Linked DNA regions of Homo sapiens. The protein of the gene in region 2 purifies or fractionates together with the protein of the main gene of each other region. This does not show direct contact. Each region holds a gene or a part of one and is shown on either strand. Other genes may lie near its edges. The genes, in order: EIF4E and YTHDF2.

Evidence for each region.
Region 1: the proteins of YTHDF2 (region 2) and EIF4E purify together in Homo sapiens (affinity purification with western blotting, with the first as the bait; one study listed by BioGRID). This does not show direct contact.

Annotation. Positions count from the first base shown.
Region 1 is NC_000004.12:98,922,619-98,926,439, reverse strand, and holds part of EIF4E (eukaryotic translation initiation factor 4E), read left to right. Parts: intron 1-3,821. UniProt on the Homo sapiens protein: Acts in the cytoplasm to initiate and regulate protein synthesis and is required in the nucleus for export of a subset of mRNAs from the nucleus to the cytoplasm which promotes processes such as RNA capping, processing and splicing.
Region 2 is NC_000001.11:28,760,621-28,764,441, forward strand, and holds part of YTHDF2 (YTH domain-containing family protein 2), read left to right. Parts: intron 1-3,821. UniProt on the Homo sapiens protein: Specifically recognizes and binds N6-methyladenosine (m6A)-containing RNAs, and regulates their stability. M6A is a modification present at internal sites of mRNAs and some non-coding RNAs and plays a role in mRNA stability and processing.

The DNA.
Region 1 (3,821 bases), on a different chromosome or scaffold from region 2:
CTTCCGAGTAGCTGGGATTACAGGCATGTGCCACCACGCCCGGCTAATTTTGTACTTTTAGTAGAGATGGGGTTTCTCCATGTTGGTCAGGCTGGTCTTCAACTCCCGACCTCAGGTGATCCGCCCGTCTTGGCCTCCCAAAGTGGTGGGATTACAGGCATGAGCCACCGCGCCTGGCCTGAAAATTTTTAGTACTTTTAATATACCCTTGTGCACAGGCTAGTTATGTGGAATTATTTTTGACAGTTTTAAATAGTTGGATTTTGTGTGTAGGGGTGCAGGATCTTGCTCTGTTGCTGGGGCTGGAGTGCAGTGGCGCGATCATAGCTCACTGCAGCCTCAAACTCCTGGGCTCAAGAGATGCTTCCATCTCAGCCTCTGGTGTAGCAAGCACTACAGGAGCAGGCCACCACGCCCGGATAATTTTTAAACTTTTTGTAGAGATGGAATCTCGCGATGGTTACCCAGGCTGGTCTCAAACTCCTGGACTCAAGTGGTCCTCCCACCTTGGCCTCTCAATATGTTGGGTTACAGGCGTGAGCCACCGAGCCTCGCCTGGATTTTTTTTTGAAGCAACTGATTAGAATTGGATTGTACTTGAGATACCCCTGCTGAAGGCTGCAAAAATCATGTTTTTTCTTACTTCAGCTAGTTTGTGAGCTTCCATAATGGTTTTCTGCTGTGCATAATCATAAACACTTAAAAAGAGCCATGGGCTTTTCCTGCTTATCCCATCATGCATAGGTATCTGGATGATTTTTGTCTATGGACATTACATAAAATATCATTTTCAGTTTGATATTATTGTGTGGTTTTCTCTTTGTATGAGTTGAGTTACATGAAGATGTGGCCCACAAATATTAAATTTGTTGAGAAGCTTGAAAGGGAAAATTAAGGGAAACATTTTACCTCTTAACGGATAATTTGGCAAAAATTTGAACGTTAGGGCAAACGGTACTCTGATGTTATTCTATCGGCATTTGAATTGTGGCTGGGTCAAAATTAGGTTTAATATTAGTCTGTGAAAATGGCAAGGCCATCTTACCTCCAGTAGGTCGTGTTTCTTTGTAGCTTTATCTTCATTCTACATCGTTCATTATTAGAATTAAAAAAATTTTTTTTTGACTTGTAGTTCCTTTTGAGGTAAGAGATTAATTTTGATTTCTTTAGCTTAACTGAAAGTGTATAATTTTACTTGTTTTTACATTGTAGCTCTTGAATTTTTTGAAACCACGCTAATTTCATAAGTGAATCAACTTGGACAATCAGCTAATTTAATGCTTCCTTTTTTATACTTTGGAAACATGCTCTGTACTACACAGCTTATTAATAAGAGTAAATAAGGTTTATATACATATTGACAAATATTTGTTGTACTATATAATTCATATTAATGAACAATTGAATGCCAACCAGACTATGCAAATTAGTGGACTTTTTGCTTAATGAAAGAACCCACTATATCAGAGTTCCTCGATAATCCACGTAAATTTGGCTCTGGGGTTCATATTCCAGATTTCTTCAATTAAAAGAAAAAAATATACTTGCTGAGTGCGGTGGCTCACGCCTGTAATCTCAGCACTTTGGGAGGCCGAGGCGGGTGGGGATCACTTGAGGTCAGGTGTTCGAGACCAGCCTGGCCAAAATGGTGAAACCCTGTCTCTACTAAAAATACAAAAATTAGCCAGGCCTGGTGGCAGGCGCCTGTAATCCCAGCTACTGGGGAGGCCAAGGCAGGAGAATCGCTTGAACCTGGAGGTGGAGGTTGCAGTGAACCGAGATGGTACCACTGTACTTCAGCCTGGGCGACAGAGCAAGACTCCATCAAAAAGAATAAAAAAAAAAACAGAAACAAATTTCACACTTCATTTTATAATCTGAGTTAATGAGCATGATTATTAGACTTAGAGAAATTCAATGTAGACACACAGTTTATACACAGAAGTTGCAGAGGGATAATATGCAAAATGAATTATGTAAGCTTACTCTAGTTTGGACAGAAAACTGTAGGCAAAAAACATTTAAGTAAAATATTGTTTAATTTACATAAAGTTAAGAATATGGGCCGGGTGCGGTGGCTCATGCCTGTAATCCCAGCACTTTGGGAGGCCGAGGTGGGTAGATCACCAGGTCAGTAGTTTGAGACCAGCCTGATCAACATGGTGAAACCCCACCTCTACTAAAAATACAAAACTTAGCTGGGCGTGGTGATGCGTGCTTGTAATCCCAAGGTACTCAGGAGGCTGAGGCAGGAGAAGCTCTTGAACCTGGGAGGCGGAGGTTGTAGTGAGCTGAGATTGTGCCACTGCACTCCAACCTGGGTGACAGAGCGAGACTCCGTCTCAAAAAAAAAAAAAATAAACAAAAGAAGTTTCCTTAATCTATTAGTACCGGTGAGTTGCACCATCTTAGTCATAGAGACTTTTTTGAGAAGTGGAAATGAGCATGGGTTATAGTCTCATCTTAATATCTGAGTGATCTTGAAGACTGAAATTTCTAAGTCAGCTGAAAGTCGGAATAAGATATATTACGGTGATTTCAATTTTTAAATGCAGTATTCAAAGGTGACAGTTTGTCAACTGTAAGGGACTAAAGTTGACATTCCATGAATGTTTTATACTCATGTATATCCATGCATTTACATACTATTTTCCCTCTTTTCTTGGAAATTCACATTGCTGCTTTTTAATTATCAATCCTTAGCCATTAGCAAGAAATGCAAAGCCTGTGATTCACAATCCTAAGATGTTCTTCCCACTCCTATCCCTACCATAAAAATCACTAGTGTTCCTTCAAAAGTCCCTAATCATGTCTCCAGAAAAAGAAAGGGGCTGGGCTTGGTGGCCCACACATGTAATCCGAGGCTTTGGGAGACAAAGGCAGGAGGATCACTTGAGCCCGGAGTTTGAGACCAGCCTGGCCAACATGGCGAGACCCTGTCTCTCCAAAAAATTAAAAAATTAGCTGAATATGGTGGTGCACACCTGTGTCCTAGCCTCAGGAGGCTGAAATGGGAGGATCCCCTGAGCCTGGGAGGTCAGAGCTGCAGTGAGCTGTGATCACACCACTGCATTCCAGCCTGGGTGACAGAAAGAGACCCTATCTCACCAAAAAAAAAAAGAAAAAGAAAATGATTTTGCGTGTGTGTGTGTGTGTCTAAAATACTAATAGTCATTTCTGGGCACTTCTGGAACCTGAGAATGTGGTCAGAAATATAAGGGGTTTTTTTTTTTTTGTTTCCCCAGTTGGAACTTTTGATACATTATTCCATAGAAACAGTAGGAAAATGGGCCGGGCGTGGTGGCTCACGCCTGTAATCCCGACACTTTGGGAGGCTGAGGTGGGCGGATCACCTGAGGTCGGGAGTTCGAGACCAGCCTGACCAGCATGGAGAAACCCTGTCTCTACTTAACAAAATTACAAAATTAGCTGGGTATGGTGGCACATGCCTGTAACCCCAGCTTCTTGGGAGGCTGAGGCAGAAGAATCGTTTGAACCTGGGAGGTGGAGGTTGCGGTGAGCCTATGTCTGCCATCGCACTCCAGCCTGGGCAACAAGACTGAAACTCCTTCTCAAAAAAAAAAAAAAAGAAAAAAGAAAAAACAGGAAAATGAAGTTTAGTCACACTATATTCAGTAAATTTTTGTGGAATCATTACAAATCTAACCAGCATTGGATTTATAGGGATATGGAATTAAGGATATGGATTTATAGTTGTAAGCAACTAACTAAAAAAACCTTATAAACATACCTTGTTTGTAACAGCTATTTTTAATGTAGAAAGATCGTTATTTGTAATTGCTACACATAGCACTTATTCT
Region 2 (3,821 bases):
GGGCTGGAGTACAGTGGTGTGATTTTGGCTGCTTACTGCAGCCTCCACCTCCCAGGTTCAAACGATTCTCCTCCCTCAGCCTCCCAAGTAGCTGGGACTACAGCCGCGTGCCACTACACCCAGCTGATTTTGTATTTATGGTAGAGACAGGGTTTCACCATGTTGGCCATGCTGGTCTCAAACTCCTGATCTCAGGTGATCCGCCTGCCTCTGCCTCCCAAAGTGCTGGAATTACAGGTGTGAACCACTGCGCCTGGCCGAATTTGTTATTAAGTATTATTTATTATACATAATTTTACGTGCTATAGTTTTATACGACTTGCAGTGCGGTAGGTTTGTTTACACCGCATTACCACAAACAAGTGAGTAATGTTTTGTGCTACATCCTTACAGTGGCTTCGACATCGCTAGGTGATAGGAATTTGTCAGCTCCATTATAATCTTACTGATCTGTCATTGACTGAAATGTCATTATATCGTGCATGAGTGTGTGTGTGTGTGTGTGTGTGTATTTTTTTTTTTTTTTTTTTTTGAGAGAAGGCCTCACTTTGTCACCCAGGCTGGAGTGTAGTGGCCTGATCACAACTCATTGCAGCTTTGACCTCCTGGGCTTAAGCATACTTTTTCTTGCAGCCTTCTAAGTAGCTGGGACCACACAGGTGTTCGCCACTATGCCTGGCTAATTAAAAAAACTTTTTGGAGAGATAAGGTTTCACTGTGTTGCCCAGGCTGTTCTTGAATTCCTGGGCTTAAGTGATCCTCCTCCTTTGGCCTCTCAAATTGTTAGGATTCCAGGTGTGAGCCACCATGCCTGGCCTAATGTTTAAAAATTTCTGGCTGGTGCGGTGGCCCATGCCTGTAATCCCAGCACATAACGGAGGCCAAGGCAGGTGGATCACCTGAGGTTGGGAGTTCGAGACCATCCTGACCAACATGGAGAAACCCCGTCTCTACTAAAAATACAAAATTAGCTGGGCATGGTGGCGCACGCATGTAATCCCAGCTACTCAGGAGGCTGAGGCAGAAGAATCGCTTGAACCCGGGAAGTGGAGGTTGCGGTGAGCCGAGATTGCGCCATTGCATTCCAGGCAACAAGAGCGAAACTCTGTCTCAAATTCTAGTAGAGTCAGGTTCTCAGTATGTTGCCCAGGCTGGTCTCAAACTGCTGGTCCCAGCCTCCCAAAGTGCTGGGCTTGTAGGCAGGAGGTACCATGGCCAAAATAGATATTTTTAATAAAATATTATAGCCTTGCTTTAAATTGGAGAACTGATGAAAAATACTTTGTCTCTTTATCTGGGGGAAGTTAGCATCTTAATTATATATGACTTGATGTTTCATATATATATGACTTGAAGTCTAAAGTCAAGTCATTAGACTTATTTAACTTATTCACGGCATTGGAGACTATAAAGGTTGATTCTATTAAACCATATCAAGCAATGGAAGTAATTTTTGTGTCATCACATCACTTTTAAAAACACATTTTCCTAGCCGGGCGTGGTGGCTCACGCTTGTAATCCCAGCACTTTGGGAGGCTGAGGCGGGCGGATCACGAGGTCAGGAGATCGAGACCATCCTGGCTAACACGGTGAAACCCCGTCTCTACTAAAAATACAAAAAATTAGCCGGGCATGGTGGCGGGCACCTGTAGTCCCAGCTACTCGGGAGGCTGAGGCAGGAGAATGGCATGAACCCGGGAGGTGGAGCTTGCAGTGAGTGGAGATTGTGCCACGGCACTCCAGTCTGGGCAACAGAGCGAGACTCTGTCTCAAAGAATTTTAGAATGAGACTCCGTCTCAAAGAATGACTCCCGTCTAAGCATTTTATATTGTCAGCTGGGGTGCTGAACTTTGGGTTTCTTTCAAGGTTCATGGGGGCATAGGAAAAACTAGTTGAGAGCTATATAGATTTAATTTTGTGGGAGAGATAAACATTTACCAGATTTTAATGTTAATAAAATTATATCCAGGTGAATATGAATATGCCTCAGTTGTGTTTTATGGCCCACTTGAAAGTGAAGGGAGAGGGAGGGATAGAACAGTGCAGTAGTAAGTAGAAAGGTTATTAAGCTTAAATAGAGGGAAGCTAAATAGGCAGATTTACTGTTTTTGAATATTATATGAAGAGATTGCATATGTGCAGACTTTAACATTGCCACCTTATGGCTTTTTGTATATTTCCTCCAGAGACTGAATTTTCTATTTTATTTTATTTTATTTTTAATTTTTATTTTTGAGACAGAATCTAGCTCTGTTGGCTAGGCTGGAGTGCAGTGGCGCGATCTTGGCTCACCCGGGTTCAAGTGATTGATTCTCCTGCCTCAGCCTCCTGAATAGCTGGGACTACAGGCATGTGCCACCACGCTTGGCTAATTTTTGTATTTTTAGTAGAGATGGGGTTTCACAATGTTGGCCAGCCCTGTCTTGAGCTACTGACCTCAAGTGATCCACCTGCCTCGGCCTCCCAAAGTGCTGGCATTACAGGCATGAGCCACTGCACCCAGCCGAGTTTTCTATTTTGTAATCATAGATTTAAAGTGAGGAGGGCCTAAGGTGGATGGGTGGATAGAGATGTCGACATTATTTCTAGTTATTTAAGCCACAGACCAGATCTGTCTGGACTTGTAGTTTCCTAATTTATTCATAGTTAATATCTTTAATGTTTTTATTTGAGACAGAGTTTTGCTCTTTTGCCCAGGCTGGAGTGAAGTGGCGTGACCTTGGCTCGCTGCAACCTCTGCCCCCTGGGTTCAAACAATTCTCCTGCCTCAGCCTCCTGAGTAGCTGGGATTATAGGTGCCTGACACCAGGGCTGGCTAGTTTTTTATTTATTTTTAATTTTTATTTTTTATTGAGATGGAATCTCCCTCTGTTGCTCAGGCTGGAGTGCAGTGGTGCGATCTCAGCTCAGTGCAACCTCCACCACCCAGGTTCAAGCGATTCTCCTGCCTTAGCCTCCTGAATAGCTGGGACTACAGGTGTGTGCCACCATGCCCAACTAATTTTTTGTATTTTTAGCAGAGATGGGGTTTCACCATGTTAGCCAGGATGGTCTCGATCTCCTGACCTGGTGATCCGCCCACCTCAGCCTCCCAAAGTGCTGGGATCACAGGCGTAAGCCACTGTGCCCAGCCAATTTTTTTTTTTTTTGGGATTATGGGCGTGAGCCACTGAGCCTGGCCGACAATTTATAATTGTATATATTTATGGGGTACAAAGTAATCTTAATTTTTTCAAAGAACCAACTTTTGTTTTTTTTTTTCCTATTATATATACTTTAACTCATGCCAGCTCATATCTTTATTATTATTATTATTTTTTAAATTTATTTATTTTATTTTTTTTTGAGACGGGGTTTCTCTCTTGTTGCCAAGGCTGGAGTGCAGTGGTGTGATCTCGGCTCACTGCAACCTCCATCTCCCAGGTTCAAGCGATTTTCCTGCCTCAGCCTTCCTAGTAGCTGGGATTACAGGCATGTGCCACCACGCCCAGCTAATTTTGTATTTTTAGTAAGAGACGGGGGTTTCTCCATGTTGGTCAGGCTGGTCTCGAACTCCCGACCTCAGGTGATCCGCCCACCTCGGCCTCCCAAAGTGCTGGGATTACAGGCATGAGCCACTGTGCCCGGCCCAATTTTTTATTTTTATTTATTTTTATTTTTATTTTTTTGAGACGGAGTTTTGCTCTGTCACCCAGGCTGGAGTACAGTGGCGCGATCTCAGCTCACTGCATCCCCTGCCTCCTGGATTTAAGCAGTTCTCTGCCTCAGCCTCCCAAATGGCTGGGATTACAGGCGCCCACCACCACGCCCGGCTAATTTT